Regions from separate parts of the Homo sapiens genome. Here all the other regions are reported to be linked to region 2. The links are microRNA targets in miRTarBase. Many come from high-throughput screens and were not tested one by one. Region 2 holds a microRNA gene; each other region holds the end of a gene's coding sequence.
The links. The annotated mature microRNA hsa-miR-128-3p reads UCACAGUGAACCGGUCUCUUU and lies in region 2 at 2,004-2,024, opposite strand. An mRNA with a match to its seed (bases 2 to 7 or 8) in the 3' UTR can be bound and repressed. Matches are read on the target gene's strand: a 7mer-m8 pairs with bases 2 to 8, a 7mer-A1 pairs with bases 2 to 7 and ends in A, and an 8mer does both.

Region 1: the mRNA of ZFP1 is a reported target of hsa-miR-128-3p. The part of its 3' UTR that is shown has no 7-base or 8-base seed match.
Region 3: the mRNA of USP25 is a reported target of hsa-miR-128-3p. Seed matches in the 3' UTR shown: 7mer-m8 at 3,139-3,145 and 7mer-A1 at 2,522-2,528.
Region 4: miRTarBase lists IHO1 as a target of hsa-miR-128-3p. The part of its 3' UTR that is shown has no 7-base or 8-base seed match.
Region 5: the mRNA of PRRG4 is a reported target of hsa-miR-128-3p. The part of its 3' UTR that is shown has no 7-base or 8-base seed match.
Region 6: miRTarBase lists PLAGL2 as a target of hsa-miR-128-3p. Seed matches in the 3' UTR shown: 7mer-m8 at 2,429-2,435, 7mer-m8 at 2,171-2,177 and 8mer at 1,193-1,200.
Region 7: miRTarBase lists TMTC3 as a target of hsa-miR-128-3p. Seed matches in the 3' UTR shown: 7mer-A1 at 2,388-2,394.

What each region holds. Positions count from the first base shown.
Region 1 is chr16:75,169,905-75,173,973 of GRCh38, forward strand. It overlaps ZFP1 (ZFP1 zinc finger protein), which reads left to right. Exons shown (of 4, transcript NM_153688.4): 4 at 1-2,330. The coding sequence ends at 430. Among named protein-coding and RNA genes, the nearest start is that of ZFP1, 23 kb to the left of the region's middle.
Region 2 is chr2:135,663,401-135,667,469 of GRCh38, reverse strand. It overlaps MIR128-1 (microRNA 128-1), which reads right to left and starts at 2,073; the gene lies at 1,992-2,073. The region is part of intron 19 of R3HDM1 (R3H domain containing 1); the gene reads right to left. It overlaps LOC124907893 (a long non-coding RNA gene), which reads right to left. Exons shown (of 2, transcript XR_007087245.1): 1 at 913-4,069. RefSeq lists an enhancer at 2,656-2,755.
Region 3 is chr21:15,877,915-15,881,983 of GRCh38, reverse strand. It overlaps USP25 (ubiquitin specific peptidase 25), which reads right to left. Exons shown (of 26, transcript NM_001283041.3): 25 at 3,993-4,069; 26 at 1,920-3,681. The coding sequence ends at 3,509. Among named protein-coding and RNA genes, the nearest start is that of USP25, 150 kb to the right of the region's middle.
Region 4 is chr3:49,257,076-49,261,139 of GRCh38, reverse strand. IHO1 (interactor of HORMAD1 1) reads right to left here. Exons shown (of 8, transcript NM_001135197.2): 8 at 3,034-4,064. The coding sequence ends at 3,858. Among named protein-coding and RNA genes, the nearest start is that of MIR4271, 15 kb to the left of the region's middle.
Region 5 is chr11:32,853,214-32,857,270 of GRCh38, forward strand. It overlaps PRRG4 (proline rich and Gla domain 4), which reads left to right. Exons shown (of 6, transcript NM_024081.6): 6 at 83-4,057. The coding sequence ends at 314. Among named protein-coding and RNA genes, the nearest start is that of PRRG4, 25 kb to the left of the region's middle.
Region 6 is chr20:32,192,698-32,196,766 of GRCh38, forward strand. PLAGL2 (PLAG1 like zinc finger 2) reads right to left here. Exons shown (of 3, transcript NM_002657.3): 3 at 1-4,069. The coding sequence ends at 3,755. Among named protein-coding and RNA genes, the nearest start is that of PLAGL2, 13 kb to the right of the region's middle. RefSeq lists an enhancer at 3,606-4,069.
Region 7 is chr12:88,195,040-88,199,108 of GRCh38, forward strand. It overlaps TMTC3 (transmembrane O-mannosyltransferase targeting cadherins 3), which reads left to right. Exons shown (of 14, transcript NM_181783.4): 14 at 1-4,069. The coding sequence ends at 610. Among named protein-coding and RNA genes, the nearest start is that of TMTC3, 55 kb to the left of the region's middle.

The DNA of each region.
Region 1 (4,069 bases), not on the chromosome of region 2:
GAAGCCCTATGAGTGCAGTGAATGTGGAAAGACATTTGCCCAAAAGTTTGAACTCACCACACACCAGAGAATTCATACAGGAGAGCGACCCTATGAGTGTAACGAATGTGCAAAAACCTTCTTTAAGAAGTCAAACCTTATCATACATCAGAAGATTCACACGGGGGAGAAACGCTATGAGTGCAGTGAATGTGGAAAATCCTTTATCCAGAACTCACAGCTCATCATACACATGAGAACTCATACAGGAGAGAAACCCTATGAATGTACTGAGTGCGGCAAAACTTTCAGCCAGAGGTCAACTCTTAGATTACACTTGCGAATCCACACAGGAGAGAAACCATATGAGTGTTCCGAATGTGGGAAGGCCTTTAGCAGGAAGTCCCGACTCAGTGTCCATCAGAGAGTTCACATCGGGGAGAAACCCTGAAACTCCAGCCAGGTCTTACTGTGGAAAACTCCTGCCAGAACTCTTCAAGCGGGTGAAAAACCTCATGACAGTATTGAGGGAACATGGGAATTCATACTGAGATGCAATCTCTCAACTCAAAAATGTATTAAAAATAGGATCCCATGAGAACATTATACTGGAAGTTACATGTGATACCCAGCTAAAGAATACATATCAGAATATATCCAGTTGTAAATAGCCATACCCAGTTGTACTACAATGAGCTTTTTAAAATCTTGAATGAATTGAGTATTCTAGACAGCAGCATAAGAAATATACAAACAGTATCCTATGAATTTAGTGGTTTTATGTGGATATGCCACAAAACACAAGTGGTATGCTTTAGATCTGCACATGTGAATTTAGCATAATCACTGGGAATTTGAAATTCTTGTCCTCTGTGATAATTAGGACATAACAAGATTTTCCATACTAAACATCACATGTGTTTTTCAGTATCTCTGCAATCCAGTATGCATTCCAAATGAAATGTGTAACATTTAAAGTAGCATGGAACCTACGTCTTTCCCTACTGCTTGCTGGCATATATCAGTTGGTATGAACATTGTTCTTGAGCTGCCTCTTAGGAAACAGAAGACAGTGTTGAAGTTTTCCCTGCTTCTGGTTTGCTGAAGATTTTCTAGAAGCACTATTTACACAAATATGCAAATGTGAAATAACCGATCTATAACGTGAAGGAGGCAGACATGAGCTGTACTACTCAGTATGCACCACAGAATAAGAGTTTGCCGTGTAAAGACAATATCCCCATTCGTCATGCTCTTATTTTCCCGTGGGATATTTGCATACAAATGCATGTCTGTTACCAAAATATTGTGTAACACAGACAGAAACCACCTGTTTTTGTCTTTCCTTGTTTCCCTTAATATTTCATGAATTGTCTAGCAAAAATGGTAGGATGCTTCTGTAGTTCACAAATGTTACATTTCAGAGACTTTAGAGGAAAAATTATTTTAAATAACTGTCAACTGTTTCATTGCTTTTTAAATTTTTCACGTGCATAACCCCCTTTAGAAGTAAATTTTTACACTATTTTGTTGTTTAAAGGAGGCATTTCTACTTCCTTGAGTTTTGCTGTTGCCAACCTAAAACATTTCCCTTTGGAACATGAGTTATAAGTTATTACTTTTCCTTTACATGTTTACACTTTTATAAAAATCAGATTTTTCAGTGGTCTCTCCAGATATTAACAAGAATTGTTGTGTAACTCAAAGATTTGCTTTTATAGACTTGATTTCAAATTCTTAAGTTCAGCCTTTCCCTATCAATCACAAATCATGTATTGGAAATTATAAATGGCAACCAAAAACTGGCTTTTAAAAAATATTTTTGGATATCATTGATGTGCTGTCACACTATATATTGAGTGACTTTCTGAACAAATTTATCCAGAACATCCATAGCCCAATAAGCTTTTGTCTAAGTTGTCATCTTACTTACTCACAAAGGAGGGGAAAACGTTATTTTCATAGCTGCTTTTAGAAATGTAAATTGTAACAGCCTCCTTGGACAACATTGTGAGTCTGTTTTAACATTAATATACTCTTACAACCTAGGAATCTCCTGGGAATCTATCCCTAAGGAATAAAAAGCGCCAGCACTTAAGATTATATGTTTACTAATGTATATTGTATTTTTTGGTAAGGACCAAAAAAACAAACAAAAAAAAGACCATCAGTAAGGGAATGGATGAATAAATTGTGGTAAAAACATACCATGGCTGAATGGTATTTCCTTGAAAAGAATGTGTGGGAACAAACTCCAAACTTCTCTAGGTCAAATGAGGAAAGCAAGAGGGGAGAGAGAGAGTGTATGTGTGTGTGTAGCAGTTTTTATAAAATAAAGATAAACCCTTATATATGTGTGTCTTTGTATATGATTTTATGGGCCTGGTGAATAGAATTCCTTCCATTTTTAACCTGTGGACCTCACCAGCTTTATCAGTGAGGGCTTTAGCAGTAAACTGAATTAGCGCCTTATGAAAGGATGACTTGGAGAATGAGAGAAGGATTAAGGGAACAAACAACGGATGGTAAGGAATCCAGAGACCAGCAGTGCCAAGAAGCTGTTGTCTCCCTAGGGACCAAAGGAAGAAATGGTGTTTCAGAGCCCAGTGAGAGCCAAAATGTTGGAAGGTCTCTTTCCTGTAGGAGATAGAAAAATAAAAAGGAAGAGTGTCTCTTAAGTGGATGTTGAAGCTCTACAAAGATGCAGCTACTGTGAGAAACACAGAACTGTCAGGAAAGGGAGCAGAGGGGGAAAAGCCTCAGCTCTTTATTGCTGTCTCCTGAAGATGCCTCCATCAACTGAACCTAATCAGAAGCCCGGGTGATGCCGTCCTCCTGGGATAAAGCAGGGTAGAAAGATGGAGGATGGACCAGGAGGGGAAACAGCACAATCAGCAAATCTCCCATCTCAGTTTCAGCCTTGCTGGTCCGACTGTAATGAGGCTTTCCCAGAAGGACCCTTCTTCCCCTATGGTCATTCCAAGTGGCAACTGTTTGTCTCATGCCTCTTATGCGTTTAGAGGTAAGATGACTGACTCTGAAGCCCAATTTCAGAGGAAATAAAAATTTGGGAGTTGTCACAGGGATAATATTTTAAGCCATAAAGCTAGGTGAGATTACCTAGGAAAAAAAAGTATAAAGAATGTCAAGGACTGAGCCCCGAGCACTCACCCCAGTGTTTGCTGGGCAGGAACTGGCAAATGAAACTGAGAAGGAACCACCAGGGTTAGGGTGAAAACCAGTAGAGGGTGGTATCTGAAGCCAGCTGAAAACACTTATTTTGAAGTAGAAGAGTGGCCACTATATCAAATACTAATAATTTGTATGAAGTTGGATATATGCTGAGATTAACCATCAGTGAGGTCATTTTGAAAAAAACAGTTATAAAGGAGTGGTCAGGGTAAATCTAGGAGGATTCAAGATAAACTTGGAAACAGGAGCTGTGAATAAGGGGCCAAGTGTTAAGGACTGAAAAGTCTGAGATTTTGTCCTACTTGCAAGGTAACAAGTTAAGCTACCAGTTTCATGGATACTGGCAGAAGACATACTGTACTGACCTCGAATACACATTTGCTGGGTGGAGTTACAGGAGGGGAGGTCCAAGTTTAGGGAGCCTGAATCTTAAACAGTGGTCTAGAAGTAAATCTATCAAACCTTTGTCTAGAAGGAAGACATATTATACTGGATGCTAAACAAACTGTTGCTCTGGAGAACGGATTACCTATCTAAGGCTATTCATCCTGAAAACAGCCTGTAACAAAAGCCATCACCATATGTACTTGTAAGATAGTGAGAAACGTGAGAAACCCATGGAGAATTGTCTCCCAACACAGAGAAACGGATGGGTAACTGAAGAGATGGGGGCTTTTGAGGATTTTGGTGTTTTAAAATATTAGAAATTCTAGGATAAATTTATATACTCATGGGAACGATAAGTAGAAAAATTGACGCTGTACGAGAAGAGGAGGAGGAGAATGGACTAGAGCAGAGCCTGAGCAGGTGAAGACACTGGGATCCAGGGTACTAGTGAAGAGGTCAGACGCTGGAGCACCAACCAGGAGGAAGGCAGAGCGTGGGCAGAGAAGATGCT
Region 2 (4,069 bases):
GTAAGAAATGCCAATAGTAAGTGATACCAAACAACAAAATAAATATCCAGATCTCAACATAGATTTTTTTTTTTAAAACACTACCATTCTGTTTTGTTAAAGGACTGCACTGTTGCAATATTATCCCATTTCTTTCAGCACTTTCAGAGGAAAGCACAATCAATTCTGCAAGCTAAGAGAACTAGGACAATATAAACTGATGGTTCAGGAACTTCCCTGGAGGGCTCCACAGAATGTTCTATTTTTAACTCTCACTTTAACCAAGAAGAGAGCAGGAAGGAAATGCAGTGCTCAGCACAAAAGTATTGAACAGGCATTAACAGGCTGATTTTATTTTATATAGGTGATCTGAACTAGCATTTGTTCTAAAGGAAAGCATTCTTAATAACACAGAAATAATCAGAAAAATTACAAAAAGTATTAAAGAAATGCTTAGAATACCCATGAATCTAAGGTTATTTCACTTAATAGTACCTATTAATTTTTTTTCCAGACTGTGCTTGTACAATAGAAGCACTGTGAAGGTAGTTTTCTTTTTTTTTTTTTTTAAAGATGAGCCATTTTACTAAAGCCAAATTTATTTGTAACTAGGCATCTACAAGACCAAATTGTTAAAACCTCAAGCTTATAATCTTGGGCTTCTGTCTGTGGCACTATTTTAGTAGGTGGGCAAGTTCAACTAAAGCCAGCCCCATGGGTGTATTTGGAAGGAGATGCAATTGCCATCACACTTGATTATCCCTTCTCATCTCTCATCCCCTCTTCTCTCACTCCTGTGCCTGAAATAAACATATACATATACAAAAACCAATTCTAACAAAAACAGTCACACAGAGTTTATTGCTCACAGCTATTTAAAGAACTATTCCATGGAAGAGTCTATACAACTCAAGGAAATCTGTGGGTACTTACCAGATATATTTGGCTCCAGATTTCAGTGGCGGCAGGTTAATGGAGAAGGGAAAAGGGAAATAGGTGGATTTGTAGGTATTATACAATGTCTGAATCTATGCTGAATCACACAATACATACTAAGAAATGCTCACAGAAATCAATGAAAAAACAAGAATAGCCAGAGCCACTACCTAGTAATTTACAAATACAAAATTCCTATTACTTGGATTGAAAGTTGTCAGTAAAGAAATTGACTTTGTGCCTTGAGTCCCTATTTGACATAGCCGACTCTCCTATCAATAAGCCCCCTCACCTGCTTACCCAGTAGTGCTGACTTTTCTTTGCTCGCCTTTTACACCCTAGTTACTCTTAAATTTGTGCCTTCAAATTCTGTCAACAATATGCACACATTGAAGACTGTTTATCCTAACAAGTTTCTTCCATAGTGTCGTTCATCAGGATCCTACCATAGTCTGCTGGTAACAAAGCTTAATCAACTTGGAACCATATGATTCTGGGTTATCTGGAAAGCTAAGACTAAAGATATAATACATTGATAATCTTTGAAGTTATCAAATGGTTGCAAAACTAAAAGTATAGTTTCACAGAATCATTTTGCTTTCCACAGGTATGCAACAACATCATCGTTTGGAAAAAAAAATTAAATTATATCGTTGGTAAGAACCGAGACCAAGTAGCTTCAAATGCATTTAGGTGTATTAGGTCCGTTTGATGTCATGCTTTCATATATAACAATATCCCTAAAAAGTTGTGTAGCAATAGGGAGAGACATATTTGACTTCTGCTAATGAGTTTGGTATGCTTAAAACATTAAGCTTTTTAGATAAGCTCAAAACCAAACTGAATTTGTCATCCAAATCTACTTTGGAAAAGAAATAAGCAATAGCTTTCACAAATTTTTAACAGGTAAATTATATTAGGCCAAAGATGTCACTTAAATTCTAATCCCTATTTCTGAGTATGATGCATGATTTAAAGGTATTACAATTAATGAAAAATATAAACAAATGTTAACACCTTCATACAGCATTAAAAAAAGCAAAAAAGCAGTGGAAACCTGAGTAAAAAGAAGCCAGGAAGCAGCTGAAAAAGAGACCGGTTCACTGTGAGAAATGTAAACCTCTCAGACAGTGCTACGGCCCCGAATCCAACAGCTCAGGAACAAGGCCAATTATTGCAAAATATTAAATGTATATGGTGAAGCTACAAACTTGTCAAGAGTCATAAGAATAATAAAAGCTACACAGAAAACAGCTAGGGCTTTGTAAACCTAAAATCTTCACTATAATTACTACCTGCAGAAAGTTTCTTTATACTATACCACACTCCTTATATGCAGTGTACTTCACAGTATTCAAAGCATACATTTTATGATAAAGGTTTAAAGTAATAAATCTTTATTAGTGAAACTGGTAAGTAATCTGATCTTTTGAAATAGTTGCTTTCATTGACTCCAGTTATTGACAGTTGGTTGCCAAGCTGTTACAAACCAATTCTCTATTATTCTACCTTTTAGAACTAGAAATGACTCACATGAGACACAAAGAATTATGGAGTTTTACAGTACACAGAGGCTTCAACAGACAACACAGTAAAAATTCCATACTTTGCAAATGAGTCCAACTGAAACTCAGTGGCTTTAAGTGATATGCCTAACACCAGTTACAAATGACTAAGGGCCATCAGGATTCTGACTTTTATTTTGTTGTTCTTTCCCATTATACAGTGCATTGTTCAGAAAGTCTTATGTGTGTAGCCAGGGTTTCTTCTGTTTCTGTTGACAGGGGTTTACTCAACCTTGTTTTGAATGAACAGTTCAGTAGTTTCACATTCATAACAAAAGACTAGTACATTCATTTCCCCAGCAGTAATGTTAGTCCTGATTTCAGTTGTGGTCCACTGGGACACATGGATAAAAGACCTAGAGCATTTTATCCTTGAGATATTTCCCCATCCTCCTCCCTATCCACCAAAGGAAAAATAATGAAAGATCCTGTATTTCTACTGCCCATACCCTATCTGGTCTAAAAATACTTTGCTCAGTTGGGCTTGTTAATTTAGGGCAAAATTTCTTTAAGTTCAAATACAAACTTTTAAACATTACTTGTGCCACAGTGAAAAAAAATTGCTCCAAGTCTACTAGTGTTTTCATTATTTGGTTGAATAATTAGTTTCACCCTTTTATGTAATTAAAAAAAAACATGCTTCTTGACACTGTGGGGTAAGCAAGTGTTGTTTGACAAGAAATACAAATATAAGAGATATGAAAAAGTATTTCTCATTTTTAATCAGATTGGGATAGTAGAATGTAGAGAGGTAAGAAAATAAAAACCAAAAGGAAACCCAGAAGTATGTTTCCATATAAAAATGTAAATTATGAGACAGTAATTGCTATATACCTGTAAAAAAACTCAAAAACAATAAACTATCATGTTAATTTCCCAGTACATTTTACTTTTCTACACTAGGGCACATACAAACATAAATGCACACTTTTCTGTTAAGTTTTTTTTTTTTTTTTTTGAGACAGTCTCACTCTGTTGCCCAGGCTGGAGTGCAGTGGCGCCATCTCAGCTCACTGGAACCTCCGCCTCCTAGGTTCAAACGATTCTCCTGCCTCAGCCTCCCGAGTAGCTGGTATTACAGGTGTGCGCCACCATGCCCGGCTAATTTTTTTTGTGTATTTTTAAAGTAGACACAGGGTTTCACAATGTTGGCCAGGCTGGTCTGAAATTCCTGACCTCAGGTGATCCACCCGCCTTGGCCTCCCAGAGTGGTGGGATTACAGGTGTGAGCCACCGTGCCTGGCCTTCTGCAAGTTTTGACATAAAAATTAATGATGAGCTAACTATAAAAAAGTCTTTAGATTATAACTTTTAAAAAAGAGTTCAAATCCCCACTAATTCTATGAAAAGGTTCAATACAATTACCAACACAACAGTTGGCACTGGCCCTGCTGAACTTTTCTTTAAAGGAAAATTTTCTATGATACTTATTAGCATAACAAAATTCCTTTCTCTTTTAGATAAGAATGCTTTGAGGATTTATTCCTTTTATTCTTCAAACTGAATGAGTCAACTAACTTAAGCTGTAAGTTAAGAGGATACTATATAAAACAGCTGAAAGGACAAGTCTAGCTTTTATAAAGTGTTAT
Region 3 (4,069 bases), not on the chromosome of region 2:
CCAAAGCAATTTATAGATTCAGTGCTATTCCCATTAAACTACCAATAACATTATTCACAGAATTAGAAAAAACTTTTAAAATTCATATGGAACCAAACAAAACAAAACGAAACAAAAAACCAAACCTGAGTAGCCAAGGCAATCCTAAGCAAAATGAACAAAGCTGGAGGCATCACACTACCCAAATTCAAACTACAGTACAAGGCAACAGTAACCAAAACAGCATGGTGCTGTTACAAGAACAGACACATAGAGACCAATGGAACAGAATAGAGAACTCGGAAATAAGACCACACACCTACCTATAGCCATCTGATCTTCTACAAACCTGACAAAAACAAATAATGGGAAAAATATTTCTTATTTAATAAATGGTGCTAGGAGAACTGACTAGCCATATGCAGAAAACTGAAACTGGACACCTTCCTTACACCATATACAAAAATCAACTCAAGATGGATTAAAGACTTAAATTTAAAACTCAAAACTATAAAAACGCTAGAAGAAAACCTAGGCAATACCATTCAGGACATAGGAATGGGCAAAGATTGCATGACGAAGTGTCAAAAGCAATTGCAACAAAAGCAAAAACTGACACACGGGATCTGATTAAACTAAAGAACTTCTGCATGGCAAAACTAACAACAGAGTAAAAAAGACAACCTACAGAATGGGAGACAATTTTTACAATCTGTGCATATGACAAAGGTCTCATATGCAGCATCTATAAAGAACTTATGATATTGACAAGAAAAAAGAAAACCCATTAAAAAGTGGGCAAACGACATGAACAGACACTTCTCAAAAGAAGACATACATGAGGCCAACAAGTATATGAAAAAAAGCTCAGTATCACTGATCATTAGAGAAATGCAAATCAAAACCACAATGAGACACCACCTCACACCAGTCAGAATGGCTATTATTAAAAGTCATAAAAACAACAGATGGTAGCGAGGTTATGGAGAAAAAGGAACACTTTTACACTGTTGGTGGAAGTGTAAATTAGTTCAACCATTGTGAAAGACTGTGATGGTTCCTCAAAGACCTAAAGAGAGAAATACCATTTGAGCCAGCAAACCCGTAACTGGATATATGCTCAAAGGAATGCAAATTGTTCTCTTATAAAAACATGCACGTGTATGTTCACTGCAGCACTATTCACAATAGCAAAGGCATGGAATCTAACCTAAATGCCAGTCAGTGATAGACTGGATAAAGAAAACGTACATATACGCCATGGAATACTATGCAGTCATAAAAAGGAATGGGATCATGTCCTTTGCAGGGACACAGATGAAGCTGGAGATCATTATCCTGAACAAACTAACATAGGAACAGAAAACCAACTACTGCATGTTCTCATAAGCGGGAGCTAAACGATAAGAACATATTGGACTCAATGGTGGAAGGAACAACACACACTGGTGTCTGGCAGAGGGTGGGGGCTGGGAGGAGGAAGAGGATCAGTTAGAATAGCTAGTGGATGCTGGGGTTAATACCTGGGTGATGGGATGATTTGTGCAGCAAACCACCATGACACACATGTACCTCTGTAAGAAACCTGCATGTCCTGCACATGGACCCCTGAACTTAAAAGTTGGAAATTTAAAAAAAAAAAAAAAAAGAAATTTCAATGATCTAAACCTTACAATTAGATTAAAAACCAATATTAAAATAAGTTGTTTCTGTAGGTCTTGAAAAAGGTCACTTTTCTTTAAATAAGTTATTTCAAATTCATTACTAGGAATAAATAATCTGGTTTTTAAGTACATAGTAAATACAATTATAATACTTACCTTCAGCACAAGAGTGACATGATTCTCTGGATGTGACTTTGAAGGAATAATTTCCATATAGTGTTTGGGCACTTTGTATCTCAGCAGTCAATTATACACAAACACAAACAACTTTACCACTGTGGTAGAATGTCATAAAATATTAAGGATACTTTCTTTACAAAAGCTGTGATGACACATATGAAGTTTCTAAACTTTTAACAGGACTGGAAAACCAATGCAGAAATCTGCTCAGTAGACAACTTAAAATCTAAACCCAAACATATTTTGATAGATACAATATGCAAAATCTAACTTTACAACAGGAATAGTACTAATTCCTTGTCATTAACACCTTACTAGTACATTAATACCTTTACAAACAGCATCATATAATAGCATAATATTTCATCTTACTCCTCCATCCAGGATCTTTTGTGAGAGGCACTAATAAAGAACACTAGTTTTGGCGACGCTGTATCAAACATACACATAGTATAATGGTCTATTTTACTATGTTCACAAAACATCATTTATAAAGAAATTTTTATGAATTCAAAAATAGGTTGTTAGTAACATGATTACCTTTAAAGTATGGATTTTGATTTTCATTCACAATATTAATTCATTAATCTTAAACAGTAGTTTCATCTACAAAATGTTCTACAGCTTTTTCCTTTTTGAAAAGGAATAAAGGCAGTTAAGATACTCATAACTTCTAGTTAAACAACATCAATTTTGTTTCACAGTATTAATTAGTAGAGAACATTTTCAATTAAAGTGATATACAATTTACAAAAATAGAATGATTTATATATTGCAAAACATTGTCCTCCATTATGAAGAATATATATATACATGTGTGTATGTGTATATATGTGTATATATAAATATTTCTTTTAAATTTTACAATAGCCCTTATTCAAGTACTTTGGGATTCTCTTGAAATAATCACCTTGCTGTATATTGTAAATACATTTAAAAAGTAAGATTAATCTAAGAAAAGGATAAAAGTTTCAGTGTAGTTTGACTTAAAAAAAATCAACCACTTACTTGAGTAAAAACCTGACTGAATTCAAAACAGGTTCCGGTGCCATACTAAGTTCAAGAACTTTGTTAAAAATATAGATAAATTTAAGTGTCAAAGACTTAAACATTTTCCAATTTGCTAGCATTAGAGCAGAATTAAAAGATTGTATTAATCTATTAACTATCCAATCTTAATCCCCAGACAAAATTCATTTATCTAGTATTACTAATACACTAATATACAATATACCTGCTTACAAACACATAGGTAGCCATAAATAAAACTTTATTCTTTATTTCATTTACAAGCTACCAAATATTATGTATCGTACACAGTGCTGAACACTTAAATGGCTGTAGTCATGGAAGGATCCAGACTGAATGGAAAGCTGTTGAGAAAGAAAAGATAAAAGCAAAGTAATACTGCAACAGGAAGGTGGCAAAAGCATAGTTTTGCCATAATAAAATCAATTAGATTTGTGATTATACATCAGTTCCGGTTAAAATGTCTGAGCGCCATGCGATTTTCAGCTTTATTGTCTGCAGTCTGACTAAAGTCTGTATAGTCATTTTGTCTTTTGCAGTTATTAAAATAAAAAAAAGTTAAAAACTATAGCAGCAACAAGCAAACCCTGTGACAGGAAGGCAAGGGTTAAGAACTAAAAAGAGTTTATACAGTGTGTTCAGGGAAAGTGTGCAGTTTATCTTCCATCAGCAGGAGTTCGACTGAGGGACAACATGATTCGGGCAAATCGCTCACAGAGTTCATGCGTGGAATATGAAGGTAACTTCGGTGGCTCATGGAAACTTTTAATCTCCATAGAACAATCAAGCAGTTTTGGCAAAAAATCTGTCAGCTTTTCTTGGAGGTGTGCTGCAAATACAAACAATTAAATCTAACTAAAGATAGAAATTATTACACGATCATTGTCAACATGATTTACTAATATTAACTTACTCTAATAGGTAAGATAATTGCCATTTTGGGGAGACAAAAACATAAATGGCAACTGCAATGCACACAGCTTAGTTCATCAATATGGAAAAAGAGTAATCATGTGAATGTGAAAATATTAATACTTAATATTGTATTTAATATAAAAAATGGCAAGAATAAATAACATCTAATTCTAACTGCATTTAATCCGGACATCTCAGGTGCCTACTACCATTGTTTAAACTTACGTTCCATTTCTTGACCAAGGTAGGAACACCATCGATTTCTCATATCTTCTACAGCTAGTATATCCTTTTCTTCCATT
Region 4 (4,064 bases), not on the chromosome of region 2:
ACAGAGTTCTCAATAAGAAGGCCACAGTCAAATACTAATGGAATCTCAACTCTAAATTAAAATGACTAATCATTAAACTGTTCAACTTAGAGTAATAAAAGATTTCTAGATACAGACCCCGCTGGCCTATAGTCAGTCTGGGAAGGGCTAGAAAGAACCAACCCATTGTGTGGCTTCCGTATCTTCCTTGCACAAGCAATGAAACCCAGCAGGGAAAGCAGTGGAGCTGGCAGAGGGCAGGGTGAGAAGACACCCAGTGAGGACTGACGGGAGAGGAGAGGCCAGGGCAGCCTCAGGTACAGCTCATACCTGAACTTCCTTGGCCTCAGAGAGGGTTGCTGTGATTGCCCATGGCTCCCTACAGGCCACCAGAGGCCCTTGGTCTGGAAATGAGAGTGAGAGCAGTTTAGGCTGGTGTCTGGCAGCCCTGCCACAGGTGTCCCGGGAAAATTCAACTCCTCCATAATGAGACTTTGATGGGACACACATCCCTGAAAATAATGTAAAAAATAAGAAACAAGAACCATTGCTTTCTACAGTGGTCCACTCAGCGGCCCCAGTGTCATTTACTGTACTGGCTTGGAAATGGGCAAATTCTGGAAACTATCCATCCCATGAGGATTTTCCCCTTCATATAATACAGGAAAGGGAAAAACCAGTTTGAATGGGTGGTGTTTATTCAAAATAATCTTGTGAGAGCCTTAGGAACTAAAAAGATGGTATGTATCTGATTTTCATATCTTCTTTTTTTTTTTTATTTTTGAGAAAGAGTCTCACTCTGTCGCCCAGGCTGGAGTGCAGTGGCATGATCTCGGCTCACTGCAACCTTTAACTCCCGGGTTCAAGTGATTCTTCTGCCTCAGCCTCCAGGACAGCTGGGACTACAGGCACGTGCCACCAGACCCACCTAATTTTTGTATTTTTAGTAGAGACGGGGTGTCACCATATTGCATATTGGCCAGGCTGGTCTCGAACTCCTGACCTTTGATCCACCCGCCTGGGCCTCCCAAGTGCTGGGATTACAGGCGTTAGCCACTGCGCCCGGCCCTGATTTTTTTTTTTTTTTTTTTTTTGAGACGGAGTTTTTCTCTGTCACCCAGGCTGGAGTGCAGTGGTGCGATCTTGGCTCACTGCAAGCTCTGCCTCCCGGGTTCATGCCATTCTCCTGCCTCAGCCTCCCGAGTAGCTGGGACAACAGGCGCCCGCGACCATGCCTGGCTAACTTTTTCTGTTTTTAGTAGAGACAGGGTTTCACCATGTTAGCCAGGATGTTCTCGATCTCCTGATCTCGTGATCCGCCCGCCTCGGCCTCCCAAAGTGCTGGGATTACAGGCGTGAGCCACCGCGCCCGGCCTTTTTTTTTTTTTTCTTTGAGATGGAGTCTCGCTCTGTCGCCCAGGATGGAGTGCAGTGGTGCGATCTCGGCCCACTGCAAGCTCTGCCTCACTCTGTCGCTCAGGATGGAGTGCAGTGGCACGATCTCGGCCCACTGCAAGCTCCACCTCCCGGGTTCTCGCCATTCTCCTGCCTCAGCCTCCCAAGTAGCTGGGACTACAGGCACCTGCCACCACGCCCGGCTAATTTTTTTTTTTTGTATTTTTAGTAGAGACAGGGTTTCACTGTGTTAGCCAGGATGGTCTCAATCTCCTGACCTAGTGATCCGCCCACCTCGGCCTCCCAAAGTGCTGGGATTACAGGCATGAGCCACTGCGCCCGGCCTCTCATTTTAATTTTTAAGAGACAAGGTCTTGGTCTGTCACTCAGGCTGGAGTGCAGTGGCACAATCATAGCTCACTGTAACCTCAAACTCCTGGGCTCAAGTGATCCTCCCATCTCAGCCTTCCAAGTAGCTGAGACCACAGGTGCACGCCACCATGTCCAGCTAATTTTTTTTTTTTTTTTTTTTTGGTAGAGATAGGGTCTCACAGGCCGGGCGTGGTGGCTCACATCTGTAATCCCAGCACTTTGGGATGCTGAAGCGGGCAGATCACCTGGGGTCGGGAGTTCGAGACCAGCCTGACCAATATGGAGAAAGCCATCTCTACTAAATATACAAAATTAGCCAGGTGTGGTGGCGTATGCCTGTAATCCCAGCTACTTGGGAGGCTGAGGCAGGAGAATCGCTTGAACCCGGGAGGTGGAGGTTGCAGTGAGCTGAGATCACGCCATTGCACTCCAGCATGGGCAACAAGAGTGAAACTCCTCAAAAAACAAAAGGGCTGGGTGCGGTGGCTCACGCCTGTAATCCCAGCACTTTGGGAGGCCGAGGCGGGCGGATCACGAGGTCAGGAGATCGAGACCATCCTGGCTAACACAGTGAAACCCTGTCTGTACTAAAAATACAAAAAATTAGCCAGGCGTGGTGGCAGGCACCTGTAATCCCAGCTACTTGGGAGGCTGAGGCAGGAGAATGGTGTGAACCCGGGAGGAGGAGCTTGCATTGCAGTGAGCCGAGATCGAGCCACTGCACTCCAGCCTGGGTGACAGAGCGAGACTCTGTCTCAATAAAAAAAAAAAAAAAAAAAAAAAAAAAAAAAAGAGATGGGGTCTCACCATGTTGCCCAGGTTAGTCTTGAGCTCCTGGCCTCAAGCAATCCTCCTGCCTCAGCCTCCCCAAGTGCTAGGATTACAAGTGTGCCTGGCTTCTATTTCATTTCCTAAGTAAACTTAAAAAATTAAACCGGGACATCAGTTTGATAAACTTGAAAGAAAAAATAGGCCAGGCGCAGTGGCTCATGCCTGTAATCCCAGCATTTTGTGAGGCTGAGGCAGGCAGATCATGAGGTCAGGAGTTCGAGACCAGCCTGGCCAACATAGTGACACTCCCATCTCTACTAAAAATACAAAAATTAGCTGGGTGTGGTGGTGGGCGCCTGTAATCCCAGCTACTTGGGAGGCTGAGGCAGAATTGCTTGAACCCAGGAGGCAGAGGTTGCAGTGAACTGAGATCACACCACTGCACTCTAGCCTGGGTGACAGAGCAATACTCCATCTCGGTTGGGGGTGGGGGTGGAAAGAAAGAAAAAAAATATATGCTTTTAAATGTTTTATCTTATTTCTGATAACAAAAAATACTTGTGTTGCAAAAACTCAAAAACTTCAGCAAGATAAAAATGGAAAGCCAAAGTCCCATATAAGCCCACTGCTCTTCAGAAATACAAGGTCTACAATATTATTAGTTTTAAGAAAGTGCTTGAAAAACAGGACAAGGGAAAAAGCAACCAGGAAGAAAAATGGCTTGTGAGCAGTGATATGCTCTGGACATTTGCTAGTGAATGTCACCTCTTTCACTGGCAGGCTTATCATTTTATTTTCTCTGTTCACAAGAAGATTTAGGGTGTCCTGTAATATGTCTACTGATCAAAAAATGCAAACATTCTGGTAGCATAAGTGGCTAAAAATAAGAAAGAAAAAAATCCTGAGGCCTGAAAATGTATTGGTCATGTGTAGGGAATATTTTAAAGACCCAAAAATGTTGTTTGGAGTCATGCTGCCACCGCAACAGTTTTATGAGAGCCCTTCTGCTACACAGTATTCCATAAGGAGGCCTGCCTGCCTTTCGCCAAAGTACAGGCACCCTGCTCCAGATGCCCCACAACCAGGCTGCTGCCTCAGTTTTCATCAGCACCATTTTCACATTTCATTCCAATAAATAAGGATGCACTTAATCCTTGTCAGGGGCAGCACCTGGTACCCAGAATGCTGGACCTTCCCTGCCCTCGTGCTCATTGCCCCACCTCAGCAGGGCCTCTGACCCTGGGTACTTGGCAGGCTTCAGGGACTTTCTGCTGTTGGCCAGCCCAAATGTCCTGCAATTTCTCTTTCTAGCTGAGACCAATAAATCAACTGTGGACTGGTCAGAAGCCATCATCATCACTGCTATCAAAACCCAGGTCATAGAGCAAATTCTTTCCTGCCTCCTTGCATAGAGGGGTCTCTGAACATCCGAGATTGAGGTCACTGAACCAGCTCATCTGGTGGTCCCCCTGGGAACTGCTGGAAAGTAGCCAGTTGTCTTGGGAAGAGCACCTGCTGAGCTGCAAGAGTCTTCCCTGCACTGCCCT
Region 5 (4,057 bases), not on the chromosome of region 2:
TAGTTGGTTGGATTTTTAAATATTGTCCTCTCAACCTAAAAATGCTACCTTTCCTAGACCTAAATGTTGTCTCTCTGCTTAGCTCTTCAGCCGTCTATGAAAGGGGGAGGCACACTCCCTCCATCATTTTCAGAAGACCTGAGGAGGCTGCCTTGTCTCCATTGCCGCCTTCTGTGGAGGATGCAGGATTACCTTCTTATGAACAGGCAGTGGCGCTGACCAGAAAACACAGTGTTTCACCACCACCACCATATCCTGGGCACACAAAAGGATTTAGGGTATTTAAAAAATCTATGTCTCTCCCATCTCACTGACTACCTTGTCATTTTGGTATAAGAAATTTGTGTTATTTGATAGGCCGGGCATGGTGGCTCATGCCTGTAATCCCAGCACTTTGGGAGGCCAGGAGTTCGAGACCAGCCTGGCCAACATGGTGAAACCCGGTCTCTACTAAAAATTCAAAAATTACCTAGGCGTCATGGGGCATGCCTGTAGTCCCACCTACTTGGGAGGCTGAAGCAGGAGAATTGCTCGAACCTGGGAGGCAGAGGTTGCAGTAAGCTGAGATCACGCCACTGCATTCCAGCCTGGGCGACAGAGCAAGACTCCATCTCAAAAATAAAATAAAAAAAGAAAGAAAGAAAAGAAGAAGAAAAGAGAAGAAGGAGAAGGAGATGAAGGAGGAGGAGGAGGAGAAGGAGAAGAAGAAGAAGAAGAAGACCACAAAAGACATGACTATCCAACTTTTTATGACAAACTGCAAGGAATAAAGGAAGAATAAGTCCATGTACTGTACCACAGAAGTTCTGTCTGCATCTTGGACCTGAACTTGATCATTATCAGCTTGATAAGAGACTTTTTGACTCTATATCCTTGCAGTTAAGAAGAAAGCACTTTTTTGTAATGTTTGTTTTAATGGTTCAAAAAAAATCTTTCTTATAAAGAGCATAGGTAGAATTAGTGAACTCTTTGGATCCTTTGTACAGATAAAGGTTATAGATTTCTTGTGTTGAATATTAAAAAAGCAAGGATGTCTAACCATTAAGATTATCCAAAGTCAGGCTGGGCGCAGTGGCTCACGCCTGTAATCCCAGCACTTTGGGAGGGATAGGTGGGCGGATCACCTGAGGTCAGGAGTTTGAGACCAGCCTGGCCAACATGGCAAAACCCCGTCTCTACAAAAATACAAAAGAAATTAGCCAGACATGATGGCGGGTGCCTCTAATCCCAGCTACTGGGGAGGCTGAGGTGGGAGAATCGCTTGAACTCGGGAGGTGGAGGTTGTAGTGAGGCGAGATTGTGCCATTGCACTCCAACCTGGGCGACAGAGTGAGACTCCATCTCAAAAAAAAAAAAAAAAAAAAAGATTATCCAAAAAGATATTGGACCTACTCTTTCTTAGGATTTTTTTGGCGGGGGGTTAGAAATACTTCACAGAATTTGACATTTCAGTATAAATCTGTGACCTTAATATAATCACTTGGTTTTATATGTTAAATTATTGCACAGCAGTCATCATATTTTGCAGAGTTTAGTTCTTAACTCTTGCTGTCAGTCATGTTTTATTATAGGTAGTGGGGTCAGTAGTTTTCTTCTTCTAAAAAATACTATTTGCTATGAAGTTAGTTCTTCAGAAGATACAAGTTTGCAATGAAAAGGATTTGCAAGGGTTGTTATGCTATCAAATAAACAGACCTAAAATCTAGGAGACACTAGAACTTAATGAAGTTGCCCCTGTTACTGATTAGTAAATACTCCCATCTTCGTTGCAAAATTATCTCTCTGTATAACTACATATGATTATTTTGAAATTTGTTAAACTTCATAAGTAATAGTTTGAGAATGTGGAAAAAGTAATTTGCTTTTCTGCTCTTAAAATAATATTGATTAATGTTACCAGAAACCTTTTGCATCTCTTAATATGTCTGAACACAAAAGGAAAACACCATAATCATATAAACCCATTCTTTGTCTCTTCTTCTAAATCATATGTATAACCAGTTTTTCCTTAAGAATGTAGCAGCATATAAGCTATAAATTTCTGGAGTATATGCACACAAATTTATCTGGGTGGGTATGTAGGTATATGTGAGTTTGTTTCCTCTTCCAGGAGCTCAAGAAATAACATACTCCTGAAAAATAGAATAGAAATTTCTGTGCTTTATGTTTTTGCCAGGCTATTACATTTTCTTATCATTTAGGATCACTTATAAAATGATCATTGTTTATTTTGTTTTATAATTTTTACAGGAGTGAGACTGCAAACCCACATGTTTGATAGTTCCTACCAAATTAAAAGTTTAGAAAGCATAAATCATATTACAGTGCATATGTGAGTGTATGTCTCTCTTTTAAGATGCATCATCTTAAGGCAGATAAAAGTAAGTCCTTAATCATTACAGACTGCCAAAGACTTTATCCTTTTAGATTCTCAGTCTCTTTGTTGCTTGTTGCAAATAAATCATCTAGCAACATTTACATTTAATTAGGAAATCTAACTTGCTTTTAAAAGTTACCCACGTTGCATATAAAAATCTTGCTATTCCTTGTGTCTTGGCTTTACATAAGCACTTTTGCTCATGTGACTTTGCACTTTGCACTTATTTTAATCCTCTTTAAAGGGCTACAGGCAAATTCTACTTTGCCATAATCACACTAAGGCATGGAAGAACAACTTGCCCAGAATCTAGCAGGTTGGTGACAACTGGGTTTAGAATGAGTGAGCACACTTTTCTAGTCCCATGTCATGCCTATAAAATTACACTGCCTCGAATTATGAAATTCAGGGATCTTGTACATAATTCTAAGTTTGGGACAGAAATTTACAAGCATTTCTCATATATACATACATTTATATATGTACATGTTACATATATTTAGATGTATTCTCATATACATATGAAAATATTTATGATGAATAGAATTATAAGATATGTATGTATCTTGCACTGAATCATAATTTGAAATATTTCATGAATTCATTTACTTCTATTGACTCCCAAAATTCTAACTGCAAGCTAGCTTCAGAACCTGTGAGAACCCCACCCCACCCAAGCAGCTGCCTAGATTTGTCTACTGCTATCATTTTGTGTAAAGCAGTTGCTCTAACTTGAATGAGTCTAGAATTCATCATTAAGATTGTGATATTTATAGAGCATCCAATGTGGAGATCATGATACTTTAAATATAAAAAGGAAAATATGATAGAACTGTTATTGACAAATGCTTATAATGATTGAAGGGAAAGTATCTCAACATTGTATCAGTCACATATATTTCTGTTGCTTTCACCATTTTCTATTCCTGTTGTAAGTTTGGTGGTAGATTTAGTTTTGTTTGGTTTATCTGTTTTGTTTGTGTTTTGTCTCCTGGCAATTGATTAGTGTTAATCATTAAATCTATTTTGACACAAGGTTTTATATATAATTAGATCAGTTTTCCACTTTATTACAATTAAGAAATGAGTAAAATATGGATATAAAAGGAGAATTGGATTGAAAAGACAAATACACATTTACAAGGTCATACCTTTGGTAGGACAGACAATTCCATATAGAATATTCTCTTTTGATAATGAAAAAAATTAAAGAGAGCACAAACTTTGACTATGTCAAAGTATTTTTATTTTTAATTTTTTGAGACAAGGTCTTGCTCTGCTACCCAGGCTGGAGTGCAGTGGTGCAATCACAACTCACTGTAGCCTGAACTTCGGGGCTCAAGCAATCCTCCCACCTCAGCCTCCTAAGTAGCTGGGACCACAGGTGCACCTCGGTACACCTGGCTAATTTTTGTGTTTTTTGTAGAGACAGGGTTTCACCATGTTGCCCATGCTGGTCTCTAACTCCTGAGCTCAAGGAATCCACCCACCTCGGCCTCCCAAAGTGCTGGGATTACAGGCATGAGCCACCACACTGGACTGCTGTGTCAAAGTTTTGCATCTTTTTTTTTTTTTTTTCCAGAAGGAGTCTCACTTTGTCACCCAGGCTGGAGTGCAGTGGAGTGATCATGGCTCACTGCAACCTCCGCCTCCCAGGTTCAAGGATTTCTCCTGCCTCAG
Region 6 (4,069 bases), not on the chromosome of region 2:
GTTTACAAAGTGCTAGAAGATTTCTGTCTTGTACTTTTCTCTTTAAATAATCTGGAGTTACAAAAGAGTGGCTCCAAAGCCTTGACCGCTGGTAGGGAGGGAGAAGCATGAGAAGTGGTGTCTCAGGAGTTCTAGTGCCAAAGGTGGAGAGGTGCAAGTGGGAACAATCAGCTAAGGAAGTCAGCTGACACACAAAGAAATCGGACTGGAATTTTTCCAAACCCCTCTATGGAGGCACTAGGTTATCATGGTGAACACCCTTTTCCCTCGCCATAGACCCTACTCTCCAGAGGTGAAGGTCATGGCCAATTCCTTCCACAGCAGGTTCAGAGTTCCAGGAGAGGCCAGGGTGGGATCCCAGAGGAATCTGGACTTTTCTGGCCAACACCTGCCTAAGGCAAAGTTTCTTATTACATAAATATCCTTGTTAAAAAGCAAAATATTGATCCTGTACAATATAACCTGTTAAAAAAATCGTGCTTACAAACAGCTCCTAGATAAGAGGGCAGGTGGAGAGAGGACGGAGAAAACAGCTACCAAAAAGGGAGGGGGGAGTTTAAAGGACTACTAGGGAAAGTTTTAGGGCAGTGGGAGAATTCCAACTTAGGACAATATCTACGAGCAAAAAAGTAATCACACCTGCTTCCCGGATTTTCAATTAAGAAAATGCCATTTGTAAAAGGTTGGGCGGTGGGCTGGAGGGCGGGGGTTGCAGGGAACCTCATTGGCGCTCCTTTCCCTGCCTCCCACCTCAAGATGATGCAGAGATCCTTTGAGCTGACACCTGGGCATGTCATCCCCTTACCCCCAGGACTGTACTCAGCCCTGACCAGCTACTGTGTAGGGTGGGAGGGGGACAGCTCATTGCTGGCAGAGGCTGGAGGTGGCAGGGAAAGGGGACATCACTTTTTTTCCTGGTCCCTCATTGGTCTTTGTCATATGCCATGGCTCCTGTCCTGGGCAGATGCCCCTCAGGTTCTCATGGCCTCAGTAAGCATACTGAAGTGAGTTCGGGTACTGAGTGCAGGATAAAGCTATTCTTATCCTTTGAACAACCAGGCCACTAAGGCTTTTTTTTTCTTTCCCCCCGACCCCCCAGATTTTAGGAAGGGAGGTTTAAGAAATGACTGGCTAGCTATGGTCCAAAAAAAAAAAGGTGAAGGCAGATATTATTCCTCTGTACCAGCAAAGTTCACAGTGATAGGAAAATTCCTTGTGGGTGCTGAGGACACTGAGAGGAGGAAAGGAAAGACAGGATAGATGGGAGGACACAGGAGTGGGGAAGGCAAGGAGAAAAGACAGGAGGTGGGGGCAAGGCCCCGGTTACAAAGGGTTTAAACAGTTGCTTTGCCAGTCCTATGACTTTTCCAGCATCACTTACGGGGAGAGAGAATTCGAGGGAGGGACAGGAAAGGGCAGGCAGAGAGGAAAGGACTCCTCTAACAGCCCGGGACTTTGTATTCTGCAGCCAGAGGCCCAGTGGCCTCTGTAAACTGAGAGTGTAGGGAAGGTGGCAGTTAAGGTGAGAAGGGTTGCTGAGTCTAGTGATGAAAACCAGATACAACAAAGAGGATGGCAACAGCGAGTCCCAACTGGATTCTCACATACCATCACCTATAATACAAGTCCCAATAACATGCACAGCATGCAGGAGGTGGCTGCGTACCAAGGTAGACACTTTTTAAAATAAACCTTAATTAGTCCCTGGGACTCACTGAAACTAATTTTTAGAAGCAAATCATCTAGTCTGATTCTAACCTTGCCAGACATTTTAATATCTGGTGTTTTTAAAAAGGTATCCCAAGCTACCCTGCCTAAATCAAAACACACTTACTCCAAATTGCTTCTAATCAAGAGCTAGGGAGCTAAATTTTAAGGCTTTTACCTCAAACAAGGAGTACTGGCTTAGGCTGAAGCAGAAAGCTGAGTCCTGGACCTGCTCAGTTCCTGATGACAAACCAAGTGAACCTAGACAGAAGGTGGGTGAGGGAGGACTGGTAGGAGGCTGAGGCAATTCCTTGGTAGTTTGTCCTGAAACCCTACTGGAGAAGTCAGCATGAGGCACCTACTGAGAGAAGTGCCCAGAAACTGCTGACTGCATCTGTTAAGAGTTAACAGTAAAGAGGTAGAAGTGTGTTTCTGAATCAGAGTGGAAGCGTCTCAAGGGTCCCACAGTGGAGGTCCCTGAGCTACCTCCCTTCCGTGAGTGGGAAGAGTGAAGCCCATGAAGAACTGAGATGAAGCAAGGATGGGGTTCCTGGGCTCCAGGCAAGGGCTGTGCTCTCTGCAGCAGGGAGCCCCACGAGTCAGAAGAAAAGAACTAATCATTTGTTGCAAGAAACCTTGCCGGATACTAGCGGAAAACTGGAGGCGGGGGTGGGGGCACAGGAAAGTGGAAGTGATTTGATGGAGAGCAGAGAAGCCTATGCACAGTGGCCGAGTCCACTGTAAAGTGGAAGAGACAGAAGGGACATTGTGGATAAGGAAAATTTTGGTTTGGGACACAACAATGTACCCATAGATTAGGACTTAGCTATCTACCCATTCCTAACCTTCTGCAAACTCTTCTTCCAACAATTCCACAACTTCCCGGAAAAGGGACAGGTGGGAGGAAGACCAATGAGGGGCTCAGACTTCCTCCTTTGCTATCCACACCAACCCAGACTCTGCTTCCAAGACTAATAACAACAGCTCATGATGTTCAAGGTGGGGACTAGGGGATGGGGAGGTGACGGACGTGGGCATGCCTTTCATTTCTTCCCCTCTCCAGTTCAAGAGAAGGATGAGGGGGTCATAATGTACTTGGAGAAAAACAGAATTGCAGACCTGTGAGAAAACTGCTCCAATCCTCTTGCCTGTCTTCTGTGGATACCGCCGAGGCAGGCAGGAACAAATGCAGTCATGGAAGATGGCAGAGACTGAAGCAGTCCAAAGTCAGTTTATTTCCCCACGGGGGAAAAATGTGACCTCAAATGAAGAGAAGTCAGCAAGCCCCGACTCCACCTTGTAAACAGGACTCCAGTTAACACCAGGTACCAAATGGTTCAGGCTGGTGCCAACTGGAATGGACTGATGGGAATGGATTCACGGTGTGTAAACAGTGTTCACTGCAATCACTCTAAGGCTAACAGCTTGGCAAGGGAGGTGAAATGGTGTGTCTGAGGTGACTGTGTAAACGGTACCGTTGCTGGACAACACTGACTGAAAACGGAGGTGCTGGTACAGGAGGAATGGGTGGGCGAGAAATAAAGGCCTTCTCTCCTGCCCATTGGTTGGAAGCAGGCAATGGAGCCAAGTGACCTTCTACAGCAGGGCCTGACCAACTGACTGCTGTGGGGTCTGCAGGTTGGGACCAGAAGGTGGGCTTCTTGGGCAATTTCTCTAGAGGTCATCCAAGGTGAAACCCTCTGTGTCTCCAAGAGGCCTCCCCATTCTCCAAAGAGAAGGAGGTTCTGGCGCTTTGGAGAGGAAGAGGGCCAAGTGTGGCTCCCGATTCAGGTCAAAAAAATAAAAGTAAATAATACCTGAAGTCCTACGGTATGAGATCTTTTCACGGGGTTGGGGCTCAAGGCTCCTTCTGGAATCGATCCTAGAGCCTGAACCCCCAAACCAAGTGCTCCTGTATACAGACACTGGAATTTTTTTTTTTGAACCCAGCTCTGAAAGCTCAGCTGCCTTCATGGGGGACACAGACGGGGTGGGTACTAAGGCTCCATAACAGAGCCAAAAACTGAGCTGAGGGCCTCTGTGGGGGCTACTGGAATGCTTGATGGAAACGAGGCAGGGTGGTGCTACTCAGGCCAGACGTGAAGACAGGAGGCAAGGAGTGCAGAGGCCCAAAGTTCAGTGGTCCCCCAGCTCCTGGGGAATCTTGAGGCTGAGCTTGCAAAGTGGTAAGCAGGGGCTGTGCCTCAGCCTGGGAGTAGCCCATGACCAGGCCTCCTGTGGCCCCAGGTGGGTTACACGGGGGCAGGTTGAGTGGAAGAAAGCCCAGTAGGTGGGAGAAGTCCACATTAGCAGCGCAGAGGGCCTCAGAGAGGTTGGCGGGGCTCTTGGCAAGCAGTGCTTC
Region 7 (4,069 bases), not on the chromosome of region 2:
TTCCCAGACTGCAAAGGAATTAAAGGCTTTGCCAATTTTGGAGGAGTTACTCAGATACTACCCTGATCATATCAAGGGCCTCATTTTAAAAGGAGACATTCTGATGAATCAAAAGAAAGATATACTAGGAGCAAAAAAATGTTTTGAAAGGATTTTGGAGATGGATCCAAGCAATGTGCAAGGAAAACACAATCTTTGTGTTGTTTATTTTGAAGAAAAAGACTTATTAAAAGCTGAAAGATGCCTTCTTGAAACACTGGCATTAGCACCACATGAAGAATATATTCAGCGCCATTTGAATATAGTCAGGGATAAGATTTCCTCATCTAGTTTTATAGAGCCAATATTCCCAACCAGTAAGATTTCAAGTGTGGAAGGAAAGAAAATTCCAACTGAAAGTGTAAAAGAAATTAGAGGTGAATCCAGACAAACACAAATAGTAAAAACAAGTGATAATAAAAGTCAGTCTAAATCCAACAAACAATTAGGAAAAAATGGAGACGAAGAGACACCCCACAAAACAACAAAAGACATCAAAGAAATTGAGAAGAAAAGAGTTGCTGCTTTAAAAAGACTAGAAGAGATTGAACGTATTTTAAATGGTGAATAACATTAATATTTATCGTGACAATGGTATCAAAGAACATCAATCCGTATCATGTGATTGCTTTTACTGGGAGCTTTGAAAAAAAGTTCAAGGGTTCCTAATGGTCAATCATGAGCTGCCTTGAAGTAGGATCAAAATAAGATTTTCATTAAAGACCTGTATTATCCCAGGATGTATATTATGTATCGCTGTTTTCAGAGTGTGGGTGAATATAGCAGAAATATTACAGCGGAAGTGACAAATTTACAACTTTTATTATAGAAAGAAGGTGTTTCTGGCAATGTAATCTTTACTGCTCTCAATTAAAAATAATTTTGAGGCCTGAATGATAATCCCTTGAGGACAAATCCAACATGTGCTGGTTTATTCTGTTAATTCCCATTTATTTGCCTACTTCATTTTTCTTGCACCTCTTAGAATCTAACTATGAATTGAAAACACTTAAGTAATTCTGTTTAATCAAGGGATTTACACTACAAAAGAATGCTGGCTTTTTTTATGTTGTATTCCTTAGTTGAGTTTTAGAAGGAATGCTTGATGAAACATTTTAAAATAAGTCATGACATGTTAGCTTGAGAATGTATTTTCATAATTGTATACTTGTTTTTAACTTTAAATGTAATTTTTAATCAGGTAAAGTTTGACACATGTATAGCTACATACACACATTTTTAATGGTGCTCATATATACTGTATTTTTTGTTGTTTAGTTTTACTTATTGAGAGTGTCACAACATGAATCACATAATCATGATTTTTTTTTTTTACTTTTACTCCCCAAATTATTCATGTTTCTTAGATCGTAGTCATTGAGAAGTCCCAATAACTCTAAACTTTTGAGTTATAACGTAGTAAACTTCTCTTTCATCTTTGTGTTAGCTCTGTAGTCTTAACCTGGATTTTAATTTTTTTGTTTCCAAAGTCACAATTGAATTATTCTTAGATACCTTAAGCCACTGAATTCAGTTCTGTTTGACTGAAAGCAAAACAACGTGACAGTTTATTTTCAAACACTAACTTCTTGATATTTTGTTATGGTATATCTTTTTATTAAATATTTATTTTGACTAAGCTTTCATAAAATATTTGAAGCTATTTTAATCATCAAGTATGGAAAACAAATTACTATTGCATTTTCCTATATATGCATATATTATGGATTAACCAGAATTGTATCATTTTTGGCCTAATGTCTGGATATAAAAGATAATTAGCCTACTATAGTATTAATAAATTTTTCAGTTGGTTTGGGCAAATTTAAACCTGAAAAATAGGTTAAAAAGTAGTTACAAATTAAACTTACTAATTTATACCTGATTTTTTTTCTTGAATTAAAGTACATTTTAAATGAGCTTTATAATACCTTAAAAAGTTGGTTCTAATTTAAAATATGAAAGCTCTGGCTATCATCCTGGGATAGTAATTTCTAATTATATAGTATTTCAAAACTATATATTTTTTAGTTCCTTTGAGATAACTAATTTCTAATTATATATGTTTCAAAAACCATATCCTGTATTTTTTTTAAGAATTGTTTTATAAATAGGTCATAAGATACAAGGTCTGCATTAGAAGACCCACTCTTACTAGGTTCCCTAAGGATCTGCCATAGATTTTTTTTTTTTTTTTTTTTTTTTTAGGTAGTTTAAAGCAAGCACTGATACCAGTGGGAGTTGGTCTTGATCTAGGAGATTCTGTTAAGCATCCAAAAACAATGCCTAATTTCAGTTCTTAGGTTATGGCTTGTGACTCCAGATAAAAGATGGAGAATACCTCATGTACTGTGACTTGAAAATGAATTCTTAAAATTCTTAGGCTCTCTCCATGTATCTTTCTTAAGGAAAAGTTTCTGAGTGTGATCTCTCTTTTGCCATAGTATCAAGTGGAGGGTAGTTCAGAAAAGTTAATAGGAAATCTTTTGTGACAGCAGACTATAATAGAAGTTTGAGTAATATTTTAATAAATTTATATAATTCAAATGATAAAAATGTATCAATGTTATCCAATGATTTTTATTAAAAAATTACCTTATTATTAGAACTGTGCCTATTACATAAAAAGTGCTCATGTATTTGAATTTTAAATAATTTATTTAAATCAAGACCACCATAAGTCATTAATAATTTAATAATTGTTTTAAATCAGTGGTTTTCAACCCTCACTTCATATTAGAATCATCTGAGGACTTTTAATATGGAATCCACCTCATAACAATTAAGTCTAAATTTCTGGAAGATGGAGCCATGCTTGTTTTTCCAAAAGCTCTTTGAGTGATTCTAATTTGTAGTCAGAGTTGAAGACCACTGCTCTAAATTAGTGCAGGAAAATGCTTTTATTTCTCCCATGTTAACTTTTAAAACTAGTAATGTACCCAGTTAAGTTTTGATGGTTTAAATTCCACTAAAGAACATATTCTTCTAATAACTAGCATTTATTACATGAAATTTAAGAGTTTAAGTTCCATCAAACTAGCCCTTGTGTAAGATTATTATTTCTTCTCTATAACTTCAAAATAGATATTTCATTCAAACTGTTCAGGTGAGAAAACATAATGGATTTTTTTTTTTTTCCTCTGGAGCTGCCTGTTCAGTGAGATGGAGGAGGTGGGCACATTTAAGGTCAGTTCACTAACCTATGGTTCAGAGTTCTGATCATATGGAAGTTTGGAAAAGAGAGCTTATCACAGGTTTGTATGCTGGTGAATGGATAGTTTTAATTCTCACTGTCTCAAAAGAGAATCAGCTCTCCAGCAGTTCTAGAAAAGCTTTGACAATCCCCAAGGGGCAGTGTTACCTTACTCCTTCACTGCTTCTTAGAAGGTAGAATTAAGTTTCTGGAATTGCACCTACATGTTTTCTTATTAACATTCAGAATTGGGAATATTAATTTTTCCAGTGAGTAGTTTTCTGAAATTGGTAACTTGGAGAGTAAAATAACGTATTTTGCTTTTCAATTTTGTGTTTGTTTACTTTTATGTAAAAATTTGATATGTGAATTACACAGTTCTAATAAAACCTCATGCCTTTTCATTACATCTAATTTGAACTCTCAACTTCATGTTACAGAATGCTTTAAAGATGCTTTAATGAAAAGTATTAAGAAAATATATAGATTTGTATGTCAGTTTATACTTCAGAAATCCATATATTTGTCATATTTATTTTTTTAGAAACCTCCTAATTGGATAACTAGATGGTATTTAAAATGAATGCCCAAAAATATCTTGTACCTTTGTCCAAAAGTTTATCTGTTGGAAGCCGCCAGCCATTCATGTAGAGAGTTTATAAGAAAATAATTTAAAATTGTATGCATTTTATATTACTATGGTATCTGTGTACCATATTTCTAAGTATTCATTATTAAATTGGTACTTCTTAAAACCATAACCTGGCTTGCCTTTTAGTGTTAAAAAAATACAACATTGTATATAGAGATTTCTTTTATGAAGAAGAGCTGACGTAA